Linked DNA regions of Homo sapiens. The protein of the gene in region 6 interacts with the protein of the main gene of each other region in a biochemical or structural test. Each region holds a gene or a part of one and is shown on either strand. Other genes may lie near its edges.

Region 1 (3,500 bases), on a different chromosome or scaffold from region 6:
AAGCAGGTTAAAAATGTTTTTCCTTGGTGGGTGGGAAAAAAAAAGTTTTTCCTCATCTGCTTTTGCCATACAACTATTTTAATAATCCCATGTAGGAAATGATCATCCTCTGTTTATTATTATTATTGCCATTATTGGAGCAAGTCACATTTATTGAGTACTTATATATGTCAGACACTTTGTAAAGGCTTTATATATATTAACTCATTTAATTCTCACAAGAATCCTATTAAATAAGTACTATTATTACCCCAATTTGCAGATTAGAAAACTGAGGTACAAGGAAGTTGGGTAACTCCAGACAGCACATACTTCAGGGCCAATACTATTAAGCAATATTTACACATATCATATTGGCACTCAGTGCTTTGGTATAATGATTTCTCTAATAACAGAAGATGCTATACAATGAGTGCCCAACATCAAAAAGTACAGTAAAGGCCGGGCGTGGTGGCTCACGCCTGTAATCCCAGCACTTTCAGAGGACAAGGCGGGTAGATTGCCTGAGCTCAGGAGTTCGAGACCAGTCTTGCCAACATGGTGAAACCCCATCTCTACTAAAAATACAAAAAAATTAGCTGGGCATGGTGGCATGTGCCTGTAATCCCAGCTACAAGGGAGGCTGAGGCAGGGGAATTGCTTGAACCAGGGAGGTGGAGGTTGCGGTGAGCCGATGTCGTACCACTGCACTCCAGCCTGGGTGACAGAGCAAGACTCCGTCTCAAAAAATAAATAAATAAATAAATAATAAAGCACAGTGAGCTGATATTCACTAAGCAGGTACATGTCTGTGGGACACCACTGTAGACAAACCTTGGGGACACCAATGCCTCTACTTTATCCAGTGTGTATGCTGGGTTTACAGCTGAAGTAGCAACATAAGTTTGCAAAAACCAACAGGTAATGTTAGATAAAATATTAGATGTGATATTTTCAAAGCATTTGGATTGACAACCTAATTGTCCCAACTTGCTTTTATTTTCTAATTTAGTTCTCTCATTCATTTCCTCTTCCCTTTTTTCACTTGTCATTTCAAATTTAGAGTAGCTATTTCATTCATTTCCCACATACCTTTCTTGAATTCTATAGGAAGTTAAAGGCTTAATACTGGGATATATTAAATGAATCGACCACATGATGGACTGATAGAATTGTGATATATAGGAAAAAGTTTCTAAACTTCATTTACAAATTAATTTTCAAGACTAGTTTTACAATATCTTGTTAATAAATTACTAATTTCAAGGCTCTAATAAAATTGTTATTAAAAATATTTTAAAGTACATTTGTGTTTTTTTAAATAACAGTAAAACACTAATCCAGCCAATAAAAAAAACAAACCGCTGCACAGCTGGCATCCAACTTCTTGATCATTTGCTTGAGAATACTCAGGGCAAGACTCTGCTCCTTTTTTGCCCAGAATACTTGTGCTTCTTCCAGCTGCCACTCAGAGACTCCACAGCTAACTGAATTGTACTGTTTAATTTGAAATATTGCCCTTTCAGGGAGCTGAAATGAAAATGACATATGGGAATAAATACTTTTACTACTGATACTACTACCATGAATAATAATAATAATGAAAGCAGCAACTACCATTCATTGAGGACTTAACTACTTGTCAGGGACTATCTTAAGGACCTCTCTGTCTGCATGACATCTCCCCACCCCACGTCTGCCTATCTGTCTGTCTGTCTGTCTCTCTCTATATGTATGTATGTGTATCTGTGTGTACATACACACAGTATATAAAATCACTGAATTGTTATCAATATAGTAAGTTACGTATCTTCTCATTTTATAACCAGGAAATTGAGGTTGAGAAAAGATTAAGTACCCTTGCCCAAGGCTTAAAAGTCAGATCTAATTCCAAAATGGGAACTCTTAAACAATTATTTTTACTATATATTAATAGAGATCTCTATCTCTTAATGACATTTCTTTTTCCCTCAGGCTTTCTGTTTTTTAAATAATAAAAGGAAAGTCAAGAGGTAAGATGACATAGTTTTAAATTGTATTTACCTGAGTGTTCTTGAAAGTTCTGGCCAGTATAGAGAGTTCTACAAGGTGTTTGGTGAGAATGTCCTTAATACATTCTCTTTGTGAGTTGTCCATTTCCTTTTCCATCAGGATCTCCAAAATGACTGTGCGTAGAGCCATGATAGGCTCCTGAAAACTAAAATCACTGTCCTTGAGAAGCTGGGAGTGTTTCTGCCACTTAATATATACTTCAGAGAGTTGTCTATGTGTGACTGATCTGAATGCCACGACATAGAGTTCATGTAAGCAAGAGAAATGAAAAAAAAAAAAAAAAAAACTATGTAAGTTCTGGAACTTACGATATAATATTATAATAATACAAAGGAACTTTTGTAGTGACAAGACTAGAACTTGTAAATAATCCTACATATGGATCAAAATTTAGAAAACTACAAAATGCTATGCGGTCAGAGCTCTTAAGAGTTATTAGCAGAGAGGTCACAGATGACAAACATCAAAAAAAATTTTTAATACTCTGACATTACAAAAAGCAGCCCTTCTAAATACTCTTCTGAAACAAGAACATATTCATCAGACCTATCATAAAGAATGCCTCCATCTTTAGTCCTGCTTCAATACTGCCTGTAGTAATGAGGACATGTCAGCAAGGAAATGAGGGACCCCCTACTGGGGATGACTTGATGCATAATTATAGCTGTCAAAAAAATCACAATCCAGTGAAGGAAAAGCTGGCATCTGGCAAAGGTTTCATTTACCAACATTATTAAAGGAACAGAAAAGGCATATTGCACAATTAGTTTATATGAATAGTATCCTTCCCAAATAACTGAACTATGAAATACTACCCAATCCTTCAGGGACATTTATTGAAAGAAATAAGAAAGAGGAAGCAGGGAGAGTAAGATGACAAAGTGATGACTAAGAAATGAAAGCTCTTTTAGTTGCTTGATAGGGAAGGAACAGTAACAAAAATGCTAGGAACCAAAACTTCAATTCCTCTCTAAATGACCCTACCACAGCAGGTCTCAAACTTTTTGCGGAACTCCTTTACAATCAAACAAATTATTGAAGACCCCAAAGAACTTTCGATCGTTGGACCATATCTACTGATATTAGATATGATATCATATTAGAAAGACTGAGAAAAATCTAAAATGTATTAATTTATTCAAAAATAATAAATCTACTATATATCATAAATAACAATTTTTAGGAAAAATAACTACAGTAGTTTCTCTGTATCTGCAGAAAATTGGTTCCAAGACACCTTGATAATGCTGATGTTCAAAGTCCCTTATTTAAAATGGCAGGGCATTTTCCTATTACACGTAACCTCTAGATTGTGCTTTTATTAAACATTTCCAAAAAGTATTACACATAACCTCTAGATTACGTGTAATAGGAGAATGTGCACAGGTTATACATAAATCTCTAATTACATATTATACCTACTATAATGTAAATGCTATGTAAATAAGTGTTATACCCTATTCTTTAAA
Region 2 (3,500 bases), on a different chromosome or scaffold from region 6:
CTCAAACCCAACAGATAGATTTTTACTCTTCCCCACAAAAAGGGAGGCTCCCCTCTGAGTATATGAAATGTACCATCTGTGAATAAGTAGAATCCTCAAGCAAAGCCTCTGGGCCCTACAGTGGGGAGTCCCAAAGTGTCACAGTTGGCTCCTGCCTGCTAAGGTGAAACGATGTCTTATGACCAGTGAGCTGTGCCCAGATACCCATGGCCCAGCCAAGGGTCCACAATCCCGTTCTTGAATATGAAAGACATCAGACCATTTGAGAAATGCCTATGGCCTAAAAAAATAACCCTGAAGAAACAGATAATTTGGAGAACTAAAGAAAGTTAAACTGAACTCTAATTAGTATCTTCAGAGAGATGTGTGCAACTCTTACATTCCTAAACCAAGAACAGGATGCTATGAAAAAGGAAGAGTTAAAAACTAGGAAATGTTGATGGAAATTAAAACAGTTGCAAAAGATAAAACATCCACTCCAAGTCTGGAGTCAAGAAAAACTTCCTCAACATAGATAACAAGACAAAGCTATGGAAAATGTAAGGCAAAAAAATAAGACAGAGCATCGTCATTCCAGGAAGCCTGAAAAGCAAGAATAAAAAACACGGATGTTTTCTGTGGGGGGAATAGTAAAGAAATAGTAAAATAAAGATATTGTCAGATATATAAGAACTCAGAAAGTTTATCTCACATGCGCCCTTTCTTTGAATGTTACTTAAGAACTGTGCTCTAATTTAATGAGGGAGTAAATGAAACAAAGATGAAGATCCCAAGAAACATTGGACTAAACTAAGAGGCACAGCCAAGATTTGGACATCCATGGGGACAGTGGAAAGCAGGTCTAGAGAGCTGTAGGTCCAGGCTGTGGTGGGAAGACAGAACCCCAGACTCTCCAGCAAAAAGGGGCTCACAGAAAAACAGCTGGAAGGAGTTTGGAGGAGAAAAAAATGGATGTGATAAAGGAGGCAATTAAAAACAGCAGGAAAAACAAAGAGCCGTGCCAGATAGTAATCTATTACTACACATGATTGTCTCTGGAATAGTTTATTAGCACAATAAAGTAAAACTATTTGTTTACTTTCAACTTTTAAAATCAACCTGTAACCAAAGATAAGACAATTTATATCTTTTTCTCTAACCCAAGATTGTTATCAGTCTTGAAAACGTAAAAGCACAAATTTCAGAAAGTACTGAGCAGCACTGAAGAGCAAAGTAAGGCTGTTTCTACACCTTGGACATTTGTCCCCTCAAAACCTCATGTTGAAATCTGATCCAAGATCTTCGAGGTGGGGTCTAGTGGGAAGTGTTGGGTCATGGGTGCAGACCCCTCATGAATAGATGAATGCTCTCCCTGGGGCTAGGGGGTGTAAGTGAGTTCTTACTCTATTAGTTCCCGTGACGGTTGTTAAAAAGAGCCTAGTACCTTCCTCCTCTCTCTTCCTTCCTCCATTGCCACATGGTCTCTGCACCCACCAGCTCCCCTTCTGCCATGAGTGGAAGCAGCCTGAGGCCCTCACCAGATGCAGATGCCCAATCTTGAGCATTCCAGCCATCAGAATTATGAGGCAAATAAACCTTTTCTCTTTATAAATTACTCAGCCTCAGGTATTCCTTTATAGCAACACAAAATGGACTAAGAGTGTTTTAAATATCCTTTTCTTACAAAGTAGGGAGACGAGATACTAGTGATGAAAGAAGACATAAATATGTTAAAGTTACAAAGAAGTTAAAAATAGTGGCAAAACTGTACCAACAGGAGGGAAGGTGGACAAGAGTGGGATAAATGCTCCTTTGTCATAGCAGGAAGTTGGTAGACAATGTCTAAAGCCTACCCATCAATGCTGGGATGATGGCAGCAACAGTGGTAAAATAGTTTTTGGATTTTCCCAAATTTCTAGATAAAAGTAGAGCAACTAGATTGCAAAACCAAAAACCTAGGACCCACATTTGCAACAAATTAAGAGAACAAGGGAACACTTCAAACCCCAAAGTGTAAGCAGGTAAAAAGAGACCATGAACAGCCAGACAGGTATACTATCTACATCAGTGCGAGAGAAAGCCAAGAGGTAGTGAGACCTAAGAAGACTTAAAACTCCAGGCAACTGGAGAGCAGCGGCCCAAACTGAGAGTTTTGCCCTATGCAAGAGCAGGTGAGTGCAGTGGGCCAAGGGAAAGTTTAAGGAGCCTCCCTGGAGTGCAAGGAGTCCTGGTAATGAGCAAGGGGTCCTGTTAAACAGCAAGGGAGCCTGGTAAAGTATAAGGGGGCATGGTAAAGAGCAAGGGGCCTTGCTGAAGTGTAAGGAGACTATAGTAAAGAGTAAGGGGCCCAGCCTGACCAACATGTCTCTACAAAAAATACAAAAATTAGCCAGGTGCAGTGGCACATGCCTGTAGTCCCAGCTACCTGGGAGGCAGAGGTTGCAGTGAGTGGAAATCATGCCACTGCATGCCAGCTTAAGTGACAGAGTAAGACCCTGTCTCAAAAAAAAAAAAAAAAAAAACCTCCAGTGAATCATACTCCTAATGTAAGGGCTAAAACTATTAAAGTGTTAGTAGAAAAAATAATGTGAAATCTTCATGACCTTGGGTTAGGCAATGGTTTCTTAGATATGACACCAAAAGCACAAGAAACAAAAGAAAAAGTAGGTAACTTAAATGTCATCAAAATTAACAAATCTTATACTTCACAGGACACTGCCAAAGTGAAAAGTCAGCCTACAGAATGGGAGAAAATACTTGCAAATTACTTATCTGATAAGGGATTTGTATGTAGAATATATAAAAGTTTTAGGCTGGGCACGGTGGTTCATACCTATAATCCCAGTGCTTTGGGAGGCCAAGGCTGGAAGACTGCTTGAGCCCAGGAGTTTGAGACCAGCCTGAGCAACATGGTAAGATCTCATCTCTACTAAAAATTTAAAAATTAGCAGGTGTGGTAGCTCATGCCTGTAATCCCACCTATTCAGGAGGCTGAGGTGGGAGGATGGCTTGAGCCAAGGAGTTTGAGGCTGCAGTGAGCCATGACTGCACCACTGCACTCCAGCTTGAGCAACAGAGTGACACCCTGTCTCAAAAAAAAAAAAAAAAAAAGACAAAGGACTTGAATAGACAATTCTCCTAACAAGATACACAAATGACCAATAAGCACATGAGAAGATGCTCAACACTATTAGTCATCAGTAAAATGCAAATCAAAACCATAACGAGATACCACTTCATACTCACTAGGATGAATGTAATCCAAAAGATGGACAATAACAAGTGTCGGTGAGGATGTGAAGAAATTGAAACCCTCCCTCCTGGTGGGAATGTAAAATGGTGCAGCTGCTGTGGAAAAGTCTGGCAGTTCCTCAAAAATCTGGCAGTTCCTTGAAACCTAGTGTTACCATGTCACCCAGCATTTCCACATGTAGGTATATAACCAAAAGAAACAAAGACATGACTACACAAAAACTTGTACATGCAAGTTCACAGCAGCATTAGTCATAATTGTCAATAGG
Region 3 (3,500 bases), on a different chromosome or scaffold from region 6:
CAAGAGTTTGAGGCTGCAGTGAGCTATGATCGTGTCACTGTACTCCAGCCTGGGCAACAGAACAGGACCCCATCTCTAAAAATAATTTTAAAAATTAAAATAAAAATGTTCAGGCTGGGCGTGGTGGCTCACGCCTGTAATCCCAGCACTTTGGGAGGCCGAGGTGGGCAGATCACCTGAGGTCAGGAGTTCAAGACCAGTCTGGCCAACGTGGTGAAACCCCATCTCTACTAAAAAATACTATAATTAGCTGGGCGTGGTGAGGGCGCCTGTAATCCCAGCTACTTGGGAGAGTGAGGCAGGAGAATCGCTTGGACCTAGGAGGAGGTTGCAGTGAGCCGAGATCACGCTACTGCACTCCAGCCTGGGCAACAGAGTGAGACTTTGTCTCAAAACAAACAAACAAAATTTCCACTTTATTTATTTATTTTGAGATAGGGTCTGTCTGTCACCTAGGCTAGAGTGCAGTGGCACGATCATAGCTCACCATATCTTCAAATTCCCAGGCTCAAGTGATCCTCCCACCTCAGCCTCCCAAGTAGCTGGGACTACAGGTACATGCCAACATGCCAAGCTAATTATTCTTTTAAATTTGTAGTAGAGACGAGGTCTCTCTATGTTGCCCAGGCTGGTCTTGAACTCCTGGCCTCAAGCAGTCCTCCCATCTCAGCCTCCTAAAGTTCTGGGATTACAGGCGTGAGCTACTGCACCTAGCTTGGAGAAGTTTTAAGATAATCTTTGTGGAGAATGAGTTGATCAAGGAAACAGGATTGCTGAGCAACGTACCCATTTGAAGCTGATGACTTTCAGCAAGTCATGAATTTCAAAACTATAGCCATTGCTACCACTGTTATCTTTTCACTGGATTTCTGTGGTAGCTTTTTGTTTGTTTGTTTTCTAGACTGAATCTCGCTCTGTTGCCCAGGCTGGAGTGCAGTGGCGTGATCTCGGCTCACTGCAACCTCCGCCTCCCGGGTTCAAGCGATTCTCCTGTCTCAGCCTCCTGAGTAGCAGGGATTATAGGTGTGTGCCATGACGCCTGGCTAATTTTTGTATTTTTAGTAGAGATGGGGTTTCACCATGTTGGGCAGGCTGGTCTTGAACTCCTGACTTCAAGTAATCTGCCCGCCTCAGCTCCCTAAACTGCTGGTATTAAGGGCATGAGCCACTGCGCCCGGCCTCTCTATACTTTTTATTCCTTTCCGACTAGAATGTAAGCACCACAAGGGCAGAGGTTTTATGTTATTCTCTGGTATATATTTTCAGCACCTGGAACAGTGCCTAGCACACAGTAGGCACTCAGTAAATATTTCTCAAGTGAATGAATGAGTGAATGAACAAATGGATATATATATTTTTTGTGTTTTCTATAAGATGTTAGTTCCTTAAGAATAGAAACTTTGGCTGGACATGGTGGCTCACGCCTGTAATCCCAGCACTTTGGGAGGCCGAGGCGGGTGGATCACGAGGTCAGGAGTTCGAGACCAGCCTGGTCAACATAGCGAAACCCCGTCTCTACTAAAAATACAAAAATTAGCTAGGCATGGTGGCGTGCGCCTGTAGTCCCAGCAACTCATGAAGCTGAGGCAGGAGAATCGCTTGAACCCAGGAGGTAGAGGTTGTGGTGAGCCAAGATCGCGCCACTGTACTCTAGCCTGCGTAACAGAGCAAGACTCCATCAAAAAAAAAAAAAAGAAAGAAAAAAAGAGAAACTGTGTCCTTTTTTTTCTTAACCTGTATCTCTACTGCCTAGTCATATAAGTCAAAGCATATTATTTTTTGTTGTTGATTGAATGGATCACAAATGCATAGAACCAACCTGCTCTGTTGTGTCTTTCCAGCATGCTCAGCTGCAACTCTCATTTACCTCTCTACCTATTGCATTCAACCTTGTGTCCCACCATTCCACCAAAGAAGCCCTTATTAAAGTTGATCTGGGCCAGGCGTGGTGGCTCATGCCTGTAATCCCAACACTTTGGGTGGGCGAGGCAGAAGGATTGCTTGAGCCTAGGAGTTCCAGACTAGTCTGGGCAACAAAGCAAGACCCTGTCTCTACAATAAATAAATAAATAAATAAATAAATAAATAAATAAAACTTTAAAAAAAGATGCTCTAGGCACCTTGTGAGAAAAGTCGGGTTGGAGATGGGGGTGGAAAAAGGAAGCAGGGAACTCAGTTAGAAGGCTACCAGAGGGGCCAGGCATGGTGGCTCACGCTTGTAACCCCAGCACTTTGGGAGGCCGAGGCAGGCAGATCAGTTGAGGTCTCAACTGAGTTCAAGACCAGCCTGGCCAAAATGGTGAAACCTCATCTCTACTTAAAATATAAAAATTAGCCAAGCATTGTGGCAGGTGACTGTAATCTAACCTACTGGGGAGGCTGAGGGTGGAGAATTTCTTGAACTCGGGAGGTGGCGGTTGCAGTGAGCCAAGATCAAGCCACTGCACTCCAGCCTGGACGAAAGAGTGAGACTCCGTCTCAAAAGATAAAAGTATAGAGAAAAATCAAACAGGTCAAGGGGTTGAGTTGACTGTTATTTTAGACATAGTTATTAGGGAAGGCCTATCTAAAGAACTGCTAGTAATCCCAGTATTTTGGAAGGCTAAGGAGGGAAGGATTGGTTGAGCCCAGGAATTTGAGACCAGCCTAGGCAACACAGTGAGACCTCATCTCTATAAAAAATGTTTCAAAAAAAGTTAACCAGGTGCAGTGTGCTTGCTTGTAGTTCCAGCTACTCAGGAAGCTGATGTGGGAGGATTGCTTGGGCTTTAGAGGTTGAGGCTGCAATGATCCATGATCACACCACTGCACTCCAGCCTAGGTGACAGAGCAAGGCCCTGTCTCAAAAAAAAAAAAAAAAAAACACATAGAAAACCTGGGGTGTGGTGGCTCACACCTGTAATTCCAGCACTTTGGGAGGCTGAGGTGCGCAGATAGCTTGAGCTCAGGAATTCAAGACTAGCCTGGGCAATACAACGAAACCCTATTTCTACAAAAATACGAAAATTAGCCAGCGCTGTGGCACGAGCTGTAGTCCCAGCTACTTGGGAGGCTGAGGTGGGAGGATCACCTGAGCCTGGGAGGTCAAGGCTGTGGTGAGCCATGATCATGCTACTGTACTCTAGCCTAGGCAACAGATGAGACCCTATCTCGAAAAAAAGAAAAAAAAGAAAATGGGAACACTGGCTGGCTGGATATTTGTTAATGTTAAAGAATTTATATATTTGTTTAGTCATATTAATGGGAAGGATAGAATATATATATATATATATATATATATATATATATATTTTTTTTTTTTTTTTTTTTTTTGAGACGGAGTTTCACTCTTGTTGCCCAGGCTGGAGTGCAATGGCGTGATCTCTGCTCACCGCAACCTCCGCCTCCCGGGTTCAAGCGATTCTCCTGCCTCAGCCTCCGAGTAGCTGGGATTACAGGCATGTGCCACCACGCCCAGCTAATTTTGTATTTTTCGTAGGGACAGGGTTTCTCCACGTTGG
Region 4 (3,500 bases), on a different chromosome or scaffold from region 6:
CCCTGCTTTAGTTAGTCCTCGGTTTGGTTTGGTGTCTGAGCCCCACCTCCTACCTCATTCCCCTCTCAGAGATGAGCTATTCTTCCTTAATCTTAAGGGGGCTGCAGAAGGGTGCAGGTCTGAAACTACTCTGTATGATACTATAATGGCAGATGCATGTCATCATACATTTGTCCAAACCCATAGAATGTAGAGCATCAGGAGTTTCTGGACTCTGGGCAATAATGATGTGTCAGTGTAGGTTCCTCAATTATAACAAATGTACTACTCTGGTGGGAGGTGTTGACAAGGAAGAGCCTGTGTGGTGGGAGGGGGAGGGGGTACTGGAAACTCTTTGTTCTTTGCTTACTTTTGCCATGAACAAAAATAAAGTATATTAAAAACAAAACAACTTTAAAGGCTACATTCCAAGCACCTGGAAAAACAAAATACCAAATATCATGCAACAGATGATGCTGAGTCCAGGAGGTGTTGCTGAAATAACATGGGCACCATACGCTTGATCTGCACATGTGGGAGAGGGCAAGCTGGGGGAGGTTTGCTTTGCTCTCTGAGACGAGGCCCTCCTGGGAGCTTCAGGGTGGGGGCTGAATGCCCATGCTGCCCCAGTATGTACACACCTGTCACTCCTCCAGCTTCCGCTGTCTTCTTGACTTTCTGCTGGTCATCCCACCGAAGCTCAGAGAACCCATCCACCTCAACGTCAGGGTGCCGGATGGAGTGGCCCACCTTCCAGAAGCAGGAGAAGTGGTACCAGTGTGGGACTTTTCCATCAAACATGGGCGACTAGAAGGAAGAGAAACAGAGGGAAGTAAGTAAGCAGTTAACTTTTGACTTAGACCCACTAGACCTTGACCTTGACCTCGACCCCAGTCCCAGCCCCAGCAGTGGGATAGCACATGAAACTTTTGTTCTCCTATCTGTGAAAGGAGGACAGCCTCCGCTCTCACATGAAGAGCTGCAGCATCCTTCTCACGATCTTCCCCAAGGGTCAGAAGACTGTAGCCCACTGTTCTTGAGCTCATTCTCTTAGGACACCAAACACAGCCACGAGAAAGGTGGCCTTTTACCACTGAGCTCTGCCCCACGTCCCTTTTGACCACACACTGCTACATTTAGTGGTGAGCTGCCTCATGGCCTAGTGAAATGCACAGAAGACACTTGTGCAGAGTCACAATCCTGCAGCATCTGCTGGGAATGGCCAGACAACTGCTCCAGGCTTGCCTGGACTCAAAGGGCCTGTGTGCCCCAGAAAAGGGCTCTTTAAGTGCCTCTGCAGTTAAGAATAACAAGGAACAAGTCCCAGATAATGAGCAAAGCAGAGAAAGTGTGTCAGAAAAAAGTGTCAAGCTTGCAGCAGCCACACAGATGGGAGTGGAATGAATGGAGGTCTTTGAGGCAACTGTGACAGCGGATGGTTCGGGGCAGCATGCCTAGAGCTGGAGTCAGCTGCTCACTGGCCTTCTGGGGCGCAGTTTCCCAGGCGTAGGACCTGAGAAGTCTGGCCACAGGGAACACAGTTCCCCTCTCCAGGTGGTTTGCTTCCCACTAGGCCTTTCATTGTGACAGGGTCAGGTTCTGCTCCCAGGCCTCGAGCACTGTCTGGCTTTGTTTTTGAGACCGAGTCTTGCACTGAGTGCAGTGGTGCGATCTCAGCTCACTGCAACCTCTGTCTCCTGGGTTCAAGCGATTCTCCTGCCTCGGCCTCCTGAGTAGCTGGGACTACAGGCACGTGCCACCCATGCCTGGCTAATTTTTGTATTGTTAGTAGCAATGGGGCTTCACCATGTTGGCCAGGCTGGTCTCGAACTTCTGACCTCGTGACCCGCCCGCCTCGGCTTCCCGAAGTGCTGGGATTACAGGCATGAACCACTGCACCCAGTCCTGGCTTTACAGAGTGGACGGTGACAGCGATTGGGAAGAAGGGGAAGACACAGTATGTAGTGTGTGTCCCTGCTCCTTTCATAAGCCATCCTGTGTAATCCCACAATCTGCCTCTGGGTGGGAACCAGCCCTTTCATTCACAGATGGAGACAGTGGGGCTGGAAATCCTTGCCTGGGGGGTTGGGAGTCACAGAGGCAGCAAATGAATGATTTGACACTATGATTCCTCCCACCACACTCCACTGCCCGGCAGGAAGAGCTACTTAAAAATACACCAACTGTGATCTGACTAAAGTAAGGGAAGTCCCAAACATCTGCTTTTATAGAACATAAAGCTAAATGTCACACAGATGCAATAAGACTATTAAAACAGCATTAAAAGTAAATGTGCTGAATTTTTAGGATGGAGTTGCGGGGACAGGGAAAATACTCTGGAAAAGCAATGATAAGGTACCCCACTATCTCTCTCCACTGTGAGTGGCCTCTTTCTGGATGTGATGTATTAAAATGCACAGCTAAGACTATGGCAGCACAAGGACTCCTCAACATCAGCTTTCCCCTGGGTCTGGAATGCTCTCCAGCCCTGTTCAGAGCACTCCCTCAGATCTCCCAATGCTCCTTCCACAGCTCCCCTCACTAAGAACTATGCATTTGGTGATTATTTCATAAGGGCCTATCTTGCTATTCTCTAGCAACATGTCACAGAGGGCACGCAGTGTTTGCTTAGGGCTCCAAGTCAGATGGAACAAAAAAGGAAGGATGGGGAAATTCCTGCTGTAGAAGAGACAACAAATGGCATTTCTGAGAGCATACTCATGTTCCAACTCTCAAACGTTCCACCAGATCTCAATTAGGCTGCTGATACAGATCCCTAAGCATCTGGCTATCATGGAATATTTGCAATGGCCTCGACCTGGCTCTGCCTGCTTGTCTACCCCTTGTCTACCCTTCCTGTGCAATGTTCCAGTTACCCTTGTATAAAGAGCACAGGTAATGGCTATGGCACTTCTTCCTGGCTCTGCCAGGGGCCCCAGACCTGCTGCCCTTTGGTCTGGGTGCTGTCTCCCCCAACCACCGGCACAGTGCTGGACACCCTGGAGGTGCTGCCCAATGGTGCAATCACAGCACAAGCTTAGAGGACAAGAGCCTCAGCAGAAGCACCCCTGACCAAAGCAATGCTTTGCCCTAAACTCAGGACTGAGAATGATGTGGCAGAAAGGCACCAAACCAAGGTCACAAGACTATCGACTCCATTTGTTAGCTGCACAGCTGAGGCAAGGCACAGAATCTTTGGCTGTGCACCCAAGCAAAAACTGAGCACCTAACATACCAGGGTCCTCACCCAACCAGCAGCTGGTGAACTGGGTTCCCTTCTGTGCAGAACAGGCCATGCTACCTGTCCACCTAGGCCACAGAGAGAATGAACTGACCTCACTGCATGCCTCCGGGTGCTCAAACCCTCCCAGGACAGAGCAACTCAAAGGTCTACCGCCATCCTCCTCCCACCAAAATGCTGGAGGGCCCAGCTCATCCCTCCCAAGATGCCCCAGGCATGAGGGCTAAAGTGTCAGGTATCAGATACTCAGAGAACAATACTCCCATGTAAATGTAAAAGA
Region 5 (3,500 bases), on a different chromosome or scaffold from region 6:
ATTGCAGCACTGTTCACAATAGGCAGATATGAAATCAAACTAAATGTCCATCAACAGATGAATGGATAAAGAAAATGTAGGCCGGGGTCGGGCACAGTGGCTCACACCTCTAATCCCAACACTTTGGGAGGCCAAGGCAGGCAGATCACCTGAGATCGGGAGCTTGAGACCAGCCTGACCAACATGGAGAAACCCCGTCTCTACTAAAAATACAAAATTAGCCGGGTGTGGTGGTGCATGCCTGTAATCCCAGCTACTCAGGAGACTGAGTCAGGAGAATCCCTTGAACCCAGGAGGCAGAGGTTGCAGTGAGCTGAGATTGTGCCATCGCACTCTGGCCTGGGCAACAAGAGTGAAACTCTGTCTCAAAAAAACGAAAGAAAAGAAAATGTAGGCCGGGCACAGTGCCTCATGCCTGTAATCCCAGCACTTTGGGAAGCCGAAGTGGGTGGATCACATGAGGTCAGGAGTTTGAGACCAGCCTGGCCAACATGGTGAAACCCTGTCTCTACTAAAAATACAAAAATTAGCTGGGCATGGTGGCAGGTGCCTGTAGTCCCAGCTACTCGGGAGACTGAAGCAGGAGACTCATTTGAACCCCGGAGGCAGAGGTTGCAGTGAGCCAAGGTCACACCACTGCACTCCAACATGGGCAACAGAGTGAGACTTCATCTCTAATAATAAAAAAAAAGAAAATGTGTATATAGGCTGGGTGCAGTGGCTCAAAATACAAAATTTAGCTGGGCATGGTGGCATGCACCTGTAGTCTTAGCTACTCGGGAGGCTAAGATGGGAGGATTGCTGCCTAAGACGCAGAGGTTGCAGTGAGCTGAGGTCATGCCACTGCACTCCAAACTGGGTGACAGAGCAAGACTCAATCTAAAAAAAAAAGAAAATGTGTATATATACACAGTGGAACAGTATTCAGCAACAGAAGAGAATGAAATCCTGTCATCTGCAGCAACATGGATGAACCCTGAGGACATTATGTTAAGTGAAATAAGTCAGCACAGAAAGGCAAATATTGTATGCTCACTCATGTGGGAGCTAAAAACATGGATCTCATGGAAGTAGAGAGTAGAATGGTGGTTACCAAAGGCTAGGAAGGGTAGAGGGACAGAATGCATAAAGAGGTTGGTTAATGAATACAAAAATCCAGTCAGATTGAATGAATAAGTTCTAGTGTTCAGTTCCACAGTAGTGTTACTATAGTTAATAATTTATTGTGTATTTCAAAATAGCTAGAAGAGATTTGATATGTTTCCAAGACAAAGAAATGATAAATGTTTGAGATAGTGGATATCCCAATTATCTTGGTTTTATCATTGTACATTGTATGCATGAGTCAAAATAGCACAGGTACCCCATAAATATGTACAATTATTATGTGTCAATGAAGAAAAAAGAAAATGTGGTATATATACACAGTGGAATACTATTCAGCCTTTAAAAAGAAGGAAATTCCAGCCAAGCATGGTGGCTCACACCTGTAATCCCAGCACTTTGGGAGACCAATGTGGGTGGATCACTTGAGTCTAAGAGTTCAAGACCAAACCCCATCTCTACAACAAATACAAAAAATTAGCCGGGCACTTTGGCACATGCCGTAGTCCCAGCTACTTGGGAGGCTGAGGTGGGAGGATCTCCTGAGCCCAGCAGTTGGGAGTTGCAGTGAGCCAACATCATGCCACTGCACTCCAGCCTGGGTGACAGAGTGAAACTGTCTTGAGAGAGAGAGACTATTCAGGGAACTCTCTTATTAGGCTATGATGTTTTTCTTTCTTTCTTTCTTTCTTTCTTTTTTTGAGACAGGGTCTCTGTCACTCAGGCTGGAATGCAGTGGTATGATGAGAGACTATTCAGGGAACTCATATTAGGCTATGATGTTTTTCTTTTTCTCTTGGGTTTTTTTTTTTTTTTTTTTTTGAGACAGAGTCTCTGTCACTCAGGCTGAAGTGCAGTGGTATGATCACAGCTCACTACAGTCTTGACCTTTGGGGTTCAAGTAGTTCTCCTACCTCAGCCTCCCGGGTAGCTGAGACTACAGGACTACAGGTCCCCGTCCCCACACCTAATTTTTTTGTATTTTTTGTAGAGATGGGGTTTTGCCATGTTGTCCAGGCTAGTCTCAAACTCCTGGCCTCAAGCAATCCTCATGTCTTGGCCTCCCAAAGTCCTGGGATTACATGTCTGAGCCACCATGCCCGCCTAAGGCTATGACCTTTTTGAGACAAACGTTAAATGTTATAACTACCACCCTTATTCCCAGCTTACCTTTAATAACCTGTTCAGATTTATTATTCATGAGTTTATCTAAATCCTTTCTCATCATATTTATTATGTCAACCTGTACTTCCCTTTCCCTCTTCCTCTCCCTCTTTTCTCTCCCTCTCCCTCTCTCTCTCTTCCTTCCTCCCCTTCCAGGTACCCTAGATGAACCATGGGAGGTCCTGGCTACACAGCCATTCTGTCTGAGAGAGTCTGAGGACTCTGAGACCCAGCCTTTTGACACGCACCTTGAGGCCTATGGACCTTGCCTGTCTCCACCTAGGGCAATACCAGGAGACCAACATCCAGAGAGCCCAGTTCACACAGAGCCAATGGGGATTCAAGGCAGAGGGAGGCAGACTGTGGATAAAGTCATGGGTATACCAAAAGAAACAGCAGAGAGGGTGGGCCCTGAGAGAGGGCCATTGGAGAGAGAAACTGAGAAACTGCTACCAGAAAGACAGACAGATGTGACAGGAGAGGAAGAATTAACCAAGGGGAAACAGGACAGAGAACAAAAACAGTTGTTAGCTAGAGACACCCAGAGACAAGAATCTGACAAAAATGGGGAAAGTGCAAGTCCTGAAAGAGATAGGGAGAGTTTGAAGGTAGAAATTGAGACATCTGAGGAAATACAAGAGAAACAAGTACAGAAGCAGACCCTTCCAAGCAAAGCATTTGAGAGAGAAGTAGAGAGACCAGTAGCAAACAGAGAGTGCGATCCAGCCGAGTTAGAAGAGAAGGTGCCCAAAGTGATCCTGGAGAGAGATACACAGAGAGGGGAGCCAGAGGGAGGGAGCCAGGACCAGAAAGGGCAGGCCTCCAGCCCAACACCAGAGCCTGGGGTGGGGGCGGGGGACCTTCCGGGACCTACCTCAGCCCCCGTACCTTCTGGGAGCCAGTCAGGTGGAAGGGGATCCCCAGTGAGCCCCAGGAGGCATCAGAAAGGTAAGTGAAGGCAGAGGGGAACCCAAGGTGATACACAGGCCTCGTGATAATCAACCCCTGGGCAACCAGCTGCTTGGAACTCAGCCACCTTTGTGTTTACTTTCTGTCTAGGCCTCCTGAATTGCAAGATGCCACCTGCTGAGAAGGCTTCCAGGATCAGAGCTGCTGAGAAGGTTTCCAGGGTGAGAGCTACTTTTTCTACCTCCTATTCCACAAGTCATCTCTATATCTTCTCCAATGCTCTTTCACCTAGCCTCACTTTAATCTATTCCTTTCTCATTATT
Region 6 (3,500 bases):
TGGGCAACATAGTGAGACCTTGTCTCTACAAAAAAATTTTAAAAATTAGCCAGGTGTAGTGGCACATGCCTGTAGTTCTAACTGCTCGGGAGACTGAGGGGTGGCTGATGCCCAGGAGTTCAAGGTTACAGGAAGTTATGATTGTGCCACTGCATCCCAGCCTGGGCAACAGAGTGAGACCCTAACTCAAAAAAATTAAAAAAAAAAAATCCAATAAGTTGTTCAGAAACTAAGTGCTCTCGAAATATAGCAGATGAAAAGATTAATGTAGTTAGGAGGGTTCAGAGAAGAGTTAAAACCTGAAATGAACTTTTAAAAGATAACAGAGGAAGATACCTTGCAGGCAGAGGGACTCTCGCAGCCAAAGGATGGACATGGTCTAGTAAGTGCATCTACTTAGCTAGAGTGGAGGGTTTACATAGATAGTAAGGAGCAAGCCCAACTCTGAAGGGTCTTCAAAGTCAGGCTAGGAAATGCTAATGTATATCATCTACTGCATGTATTATATAATAAAGACGTACCCGACAACCATCTAATAAATCTTCAGGTGCTTGAAATGCACTGACATCCAGATTTTCTAGATTTTCAAGTGTAGGCTCCAGTTTGCTGTTAAGTGAATTACATATTGATTCACTTACGCAACTTGCATTTATGTTGGAAATATTGCTGACATCTGAAAGAGTACGACCTACATATTTTGAAAACGTATAAATTTATGGGAGATAAAATAATCATGATTACATATTGTCTATGGATTAACTTTTCTTACAAATATAGGGCAATAAACAACTTCCAAAGTAAGATTCAGGGGTGTTTACTGAAATCTTAGTGGCAAAGTATAAAAAGGGAAAATGAAATTAATTAAGCCTCCTATCTTATTTAAATGAAAATAGATTTAACACATTTTCTTAATAGTGTCTTGTTTCCCATAAAAATCTGAAGTTGCTGACTTTAAGGTCCAAGAAGCTTACATTTGAAAAAATATTTTAAACATTTTGCCAACACGACACCTACAAAATAGAAATGGTTTTAATTTTTATACAAATACAGATGATCTATAACTGCAGCAAAACTGTAAATTAAGGAAAGATTAATATATGCATGTAATGTTTAAAAGATTAATACTTTTATCTTAAGCCCCCAGCTACCATTGTTCTTAATTTCTTTGATCATCTTTTGCATTACAACAGAGTATAAAAGACAGCATTCATTCATTCTAAAAGAAAATTACGAACAGTTCAGTGCTAACTTTTTATACAATTTGACTATTATACAATTATGCCTAGAAGCACAGCAAACAAGAAAAAGAAATTCCCTATCTCAGTGATCCTATTAACATACTGATTATTACATAGAAATATGACTGTCTTCAGAATAATTATTTTAATCTCAATGAGACTCACTATCAATTGTGTTGATCTGGCTGGTAGGAGTTGAAGAATTGGGCATAGTCTTTGCTTCTGGTCTAGGTTCTGTCTTGTATATGGATTCATCCTGACAAAAACCTTTCTCAATACTGTCAAAAAACCACTGTGTGGTCACACAGTGTACATTCCATCTCTTGGCACACTCATACTTCTGACCTGTGGCGTTCATTAAGAAAGAAATAGAGAAAATAGGAGAAACCAAGAAATGAAAACCATTACAATCTATCTTTGCAGAAATATTCAAATTATAACAGGTTAATATTTTTTTTTTTTTTTTGAGATGGAGTCTCACTCTGTTGCCCAGGCTGGAGTACAGTGGTGAGATCTTGGCTCACTGCAACCTCCACCTCCCTCCTGATCAAGCGATTCTCCTGCCTCAGCCTCCTGAATAGCTAGGATTACAGACGTGTGCCACCATGTCTGGCTAATTTTTTTGTATTTTTAGTAGACACGGGGTTTCACCATGTTGGCTAGGCTGGTCTCAAACTCCTGACCTCAGGTGATTCGCCTGCCTTGGCCTCCCAAAATGCTGGGATTACAAGCGTGAGCAACCGCGCCCGGCTATAACAGGTTATTTCAAAAACCTATCAACAAAATTAAAGTTACCAGTACTTACTCTTAAACAGTATGCTACACAGTTTATTACAAAGTAGTATTTTAGCTTATTGCCTAATTATATTTTCTATGTGTAGTATAAATACATATGCCATGTGAGAGGTTTTATCTTTTATACAAACTGCAGGAAGACAGAAGCAACTGTGGGGTAACTTAATTAATATTGGACTTGGGTTTGCATATAGGCTCCATCACTTAATTTCTTTAAACCAGCTTGTACAATGTGAAAATTGTAAATTTGTGCTATATAATAAATCCCAACTTTGAACAGACTATTCCAATGTCAACAGGCTTCTACTTAAAGTCCAGGATAGATAAGCCAAAAGATAAATTATATTGAAAATATGTATCTTTTATTACCTTAAAAATCTTCAACACAATGTATTTTGAAGCAGTATCACAGAGGAATTGAGGTCAATATGTCACATGAAAGGTTTTTTGGCATTCTTGAGAGAATCAACAATGAACTGTCTTCAGATTCAGAAAAAGAACAGCAGTATCAACTCTACTCACAGTGATCCTATCACAATCAGCCATACTCAAAGTTCTGACTTAAGGACAATTACCATTTAATCGTAATTTCTTCTCAATCTAGATAGCTTAGTAAAACACAGTATACATATAAAGGGCAATAATAAAAACATTAACAAAACTCATCTTTTATCAATTTGTGTATATTTTAAGAGTGCTGATAAAAAATTATCCAGAATAATGTTATGTAACACCAAACTTAATAGCAATTTTAAAGAATTTTTCTTGTTCGTAATGTCTTTTTCATTTTTTACTGCCTCATGTGCCGCAAGGTGTGTCTTCCAGTTAAAACTTTGCAAGATGTTAGAGAAAACATCTTTGCAAGATGTTAGAGAAAACAGTATCAAACTAGATTAATGACATGTCAGAAGTAAAAGCTGTTCTGTAAAGATTTTAAAATATTAAATATTAGTGGCTGGGCACGGTGGCTCATGCCTGTAATCCCAGGACTTTGGGAGGTTGAGGTGGGAAGATCAATTGAGGTCAGTTAGAGACCAGTCTGGCCAACATGGTGAAAGCCCGTCTCTACTAAAAATAAAAAGTTATTCAGGCGTGGTGGCAGGTGCCTGTAATCCCGCTACTCGGGAAGCTGAGTTGGGAGAATCGCTTGATCAAGGGAGGCAGAGGTTGCAGTGAGCTGAGATTGTGCCACTGCCCTCCAGCCTGGGCAATAGAGCAAGACTCTGTCTCAAAATAAATAAATAAATAAATAAAAATAAAATATTAAATACTAGAGAAAATGTTTCATTTGTCCCTTTGTGAAACACAGTTTTACCTTTTGGTTCTTGCACAATGAGGTGTGTACATTCATTCATTTTCAATTGTCCCATGTATTGACCTCCATGCTTAACTGTGAGTTGCTGAACTTCTTTCCTGTCTAAGCCACATAAGCCAGTCACACAGATTATGCAACCAAGAAAAATAGGA
Region 7 (3,500 bases), 8.9 Mb from region 6:
GCAACAAAGTGAGATCCCTCTCTACAAAAAATTTAAAAATTAGCTGGGTGTAGTGGCACATACTATGGTTCCAGCTACTCAAGAGGCTGAGGTGGGAGGATCACTTGAGCCTGGGAGATCAAGGATGCAGACTGCAGTGAGCCATGATTGCGCCACTGCACTCTAGCCTGGGTGACAGAGCAAGACCCTGTCTCTTAAAAAAAAAAAAAGAAAGAAGAAAGGCCGGGCATGGTGGCTCATGCCTGTAACCCCAGCACTTTGGGGGGACAGAGTGGGTAGATTACCTGAGGTCAGGAGTTGGAGACTAGCCTGACCAACATGGTGAAACCCTGTCTCTACTAAAAATGCAAAAATTTGCCAGGCCTGGTGGCACACGCCTGTAATCCCAGCTACTCCGGAGGCTGGGGCAGGAGAATCGTCTGAACCCAGGAGGCAGAGGTTGCAGTGAGCCAAGATGGCGCCATTGTACTTCAGCCTGGGCAACAAGAGCAAAACTCCGTCTCGGGGAAAAAAAAAAAAAGAAAAAAAGAAAAGCACATTTCTCAAGGGGATCTTAGCTTTATTGTTAACCTTACATTACAAGATTTAGGGAGTACTTTCTATTGCTTTCAATAGAAAGTTTCTATTGAAACTTCAGAACAAGTTTCAACTTACTACCTAAACAAATGGATCTTCTAAGTATTTGTATAAATCTCATACTTCATAAAAATTTATACTCCATTACCACTGGAAAGTGGCCAAGAAGATACACTCTATAGTCCTCAGTTGGGCAAAGTAATTTAACTATTTGAAGTTCTCAAGGTCCAAGGTTGTAACAGGGGGCACATTAAGACGATCTCTGGTATCACTAAAGAAGATAATCTAATATTGAATCTTACAATATTGAAACAACCATCAGGTATGCCCCATTTAGGCTGTCAAATCACAAGAGTATTCGAAAAATCCCAAAATCACCTCTCCTACCAGTTTTGTGATGCGATCTAATACCAGTTATCCCATTTATAACTAATCAATACTGAGCACTGAATCTATAAAGCATGTAACTTCCTGTAATTTTTCAAGGCTTCAGTCTAATTCTTTTACTGATTTGAAAAGCAGAGCTTAAATAGGTTTTAAAGTATTAAATAAGTCATAATCACTCACCAAGTTTTACTGGACTAGGTATTTTTTTTTTCAGTAGGAAAAGGAATGGCTTGCAGACAGAAGCTTTTAGTTGAGAAGATGAACATTCATGTTGAGAAGTGGCTTTCAAGTTCCTACAGAAGAGGTCCACATGTCCGTGTTCAGAGAAAGGTTCTGTTAAAGAACTTGTCAGATAAAACATGCCGTGAAGAGTACAGACAAGTTGACCAAGTATAGAAGCAAATTCTTTCTTGACAATGTCAGAATCATCTTTGACTTTATCTCTGGGGAAAAAAAAGAAAAAGTACTAAACTTTCTTGCCTAATTTTGTGGTCTAAATAGTCTTGCTTAATTTGGGACAAAAGTACTGGTAAAACAAAGCCTAGAAGGAAAAAATGTTAAATTCTAAAACTAAAAGCAACATTTGCTTTACATATTCAACAATAAACACAACCCTGCATACATAGCCAGACAATTATGATCTTTCCAATAGAGTGATATATTCAAATTAAAATCTTAGTACATACATAAGAATCTTGGGAACTCTGTTACAAGAATTCTGCTGCTGCAATAAGATAAAAAATCCACTAACACAACTAGCCCGGATTACTTCATGGGAGCTCTGCAGGGCCCAGTTGTAAACTGCTGTTCTCCACTCAAGGAATATTCTTCTTGGAAACAGAGTCAGAAGAAACACACATCGTGATTGTGCCTGTGGTGCTGAAAAAATTAAGTCTATTAAACAAGATTTCTACTAATGTTAATTTTATGTATACACATATACATATATATAAGTAAAGTAACATTTGTGTATACATATATATAAATAAAAGTCAAGTAACACTTAAAATACATTTAATACCTAATTTAATTAAAAGCTCCTTTTCAGAAAATAAAGCAAGTGCACTGAAAAAGGTCTATACACAACCTTACTAAATAATCAAGGAAATGCAAATTGAAAATCATACCTACCAGATAGGAAAAAGAAAAAATTTAAGATACTTAACTCCATGACATTTTTTATTTTCTAGATAGCAAAAATTTTAAAGTCAGCTAAGTGTCAGTGAGGATGTGGAACTCATACTCTGCTAACAGGAGTGTAAACTGGTGTATCTTTGGAGAACAATACAGCAGAATAGAGGTGAAGATGTGCAAACTCTATAACCCAACAATACTACTCCTAGGTAGGTAAAAACGTTAAAATAATGCTTCTCAAACTTTAATATGGATATGAATCACCTATCTTGTTAAAATGCAGATTCTGATCAGTAGGTCTGGGTGGAGCATAAGATTCCCCATTTCTTTCTTTCTCTCTCTTTTTTTTTAATGTGCTCTTTCAGCAGAATCAAAGACGCTCCATTTCTAACAAGTCCCTAAATGGTGGCGATGCTACTGGTCTGTGGAGCATACTTTTCAAACAGCAAGGACTTAGAATGACTAAAGAATCATTTATAAAAATATTCATTTAAATGTTGCTTGTAATTGTGAAAAGTTGGAAACAACTTGATTGTCCACCAATAGGAGGTCTGATAGTGTCCATCCAAATTTGGCTACTATTTGGAAGTTTAAATAAAAACTAGAGTTACCCATATCACCATGGATAAGTCTCATAAAGATAGTGTTGATCAACAAAATGTAAGCTGTAAGAAGCAAAACAATTTCTTATATTATTTATAAATAAATACATATATAGTAAAAGTAATAGAACATTCAACAGAACAATCAACACCAAATTCAGAACAGTAGTAATCTCTGGGGAAAAAAATGAGGGGAATGAAATCATAGAGGGACAAAGGCTTCCATCATATCTCTAATAGCCCAGGCTGGAGTGCAGGGGTGCAATCTTGGCTCACTGAAACCTCTGCCTCCTGGGTTCAAGAGATTCTTGTATCTCAGCCTCCCTAGTAGCTGGGACTACAGGCGTGAGCCACCATGCCTGGCTAATTTTTGTATTTTTAGAAGAGATGAGGTTTTGCCATGTTGGCCAGGCTGGTCTCAAGCTCCTGACCTCAAGAGATCCGCATGCCTTGGCCTCCCAAAGTGCTGGGATTACAGGCGTGAGCCACCGTGCCTGGCCTAATGTTTCTATTTCTTAAACTGAGAAGTTGGTATAAGAATTTTTGGTATATTGTTCTTCTTTTTAAAATATTTCTCAAATACTTCCTAATTTTATTAAATGAAGATAATGATATGTAAGGACACATTGCAAATGTTTTACAAAAAGAAAGGAAATGGGATATGTGGGGCAGGCTTTTATGTGTTACTTTTTATGTATCTAACCCCCTTCTGAACTATTAAAAATGTACCTGCTCTTTTAATTATTGAAAAAAATATAAATAAGTCTTAGAAGTCCTATATAGAGATGAGTTAAAACAAAC

The links.
Region 1: of the proteins of TOPBP1 (region 6) and ATM, one has a biochemical effect on the other in vitro, tested with the Homo sapiens proteins (one study listed by BioGRID).
Region 2: the proteins of TOPBP1 (region 6) and CDC45 form a complex in vitro, tested with the Homo sapiens proteins (one study listed by BioGRID and IntAct).
Region 3: the proteins of TOPBP1 (region 6) and RHNO1 form a complex in vitro, tested with the Homo sapiens proteins (2 studies listed by BioGRID).
Region 4: the proteins of TOPBP1 (region 6) and PARP1 form a complex in vitro, tested with the Homo sapiens proteins (one study listed by BioGRID).
Region 5: the proteins of TOPBP1 (region 6) and MDC1 are reported together in a solved structure, tested with the Homo sapiens proteins (3 studies listed by BioGRID, with this or other methods).
Region 7: the proteins of TOPBP1 (region 6) and ATR form a complex in vitro, tested with the Homo sapiens proteins (one study listed by BioGRID).

The regions. Positions count from the first base shown.
Region 1 is NC_000011.10:108,324,067-108,327,566, reverse strand, and holds part of ATM (serine-protein kinase ATM), read right to left. Parts: intron 2,258-3,500; coding exon 2,023-2,257; intron 1,510-2,022; coding exon 1,342-1,509; intron 1-1,341.
Region 2 is NC_000022.11:19,510,920-19,514,419, reverse strand, and holds part of CDC45 (cell division control protein 45 homolog), read right to left. Parts: intron 1-3,500. UniProt on the Homo sapiens protein: Required for initiation of chromosomal DNA replication. Core component of CDC45-MCM-GINS (CMG) helicase, the molecular machine that unwinds template DNA during replication, and around which the replisome is built.
Region 3 is NC_000012.12:2,880,223-2,883,722, forward strand, and holds part of RHNO1 (RAD9, HUS1, RAD1-interacting nuclear orphan protein 1), read left to right. Parts: intron 1-3,500. UniProt on the Homo sapiens protein: Involved in microhomology-mediated end-joining (MMEJ) DNA repair by promoting recruitment of polymerase theta (POLQ) to DNA damage sites during mitosis.
Region 4 is NC_000001.11:226,401,594-226,405,093, forward strand, and holds part of PARP1 (poly [ADP-ribose] polymerase 1), read right to left. Parts: intron 787-3,500; coding exon 621-786; intron 1-620. UniProt on the Homo sapiens protein: Poly-ADP-ribosyltransferase that mediates poly-ADP-ribosylation of proteins and plays a key role in DNA repair.
Region 5 is NC_000006.12:30,707,282-30,710,781, reverse strand, and holds part of MDC1 (mediator of DNA damage checkpoint protein 1), read left to right. Parts: intron 1-2,424; coding exon 2,425-3,216; intron 3,217-3,327; coding exon 3,328-3,398; intron 3,399-3,500. UniProt on the Homo sapiens protein: Histone reader protein required for checkpoint-mediated cell cycle arrest in response to DNA damage within both the S phase and G2/M phases of the cell cycle.
Region 6 is NC_000003.12:133,651,942-133,655,441, forward strand, and holds part of TOPBP1 (DNA topoisomerase 2-binding protein 1), read right to left. Parts: coding exon 3,349-3,500; intron 1,584-3,348; coding exon 1,404-1,583; intron 689-1,403; coding exon 522-688; intron 1-521. UniProt on the Homo sapiens protein: Scaffold protein that acts as a key protein-protein adapter in DNA replication and DNA repair. Composed of multiple BRCT domains, which specifically recognize and bind phosphorylated proteins, bringing proteins together into functional combinations.
Region 7 is NC_000003.12:142,554,734-142,558,233, forward strand, and holds part of ATR (serine/threonine-protein kinase ATR), read right to left. Parts: intron 1,843-3,500; coding exon 1,650-1,842; intron 1,407-1,649; coding exon 1,144-1,406; intron 1-1,143. UniProt on the Homo sapiens protein: Serine/threonine protein kinase which activates checkpoint signaling upon genotoxic stresses such as ionizing radiation (IR), ultraviolet light (UV), or DNA replication stalling, thereby acting as a DNA damage sensor.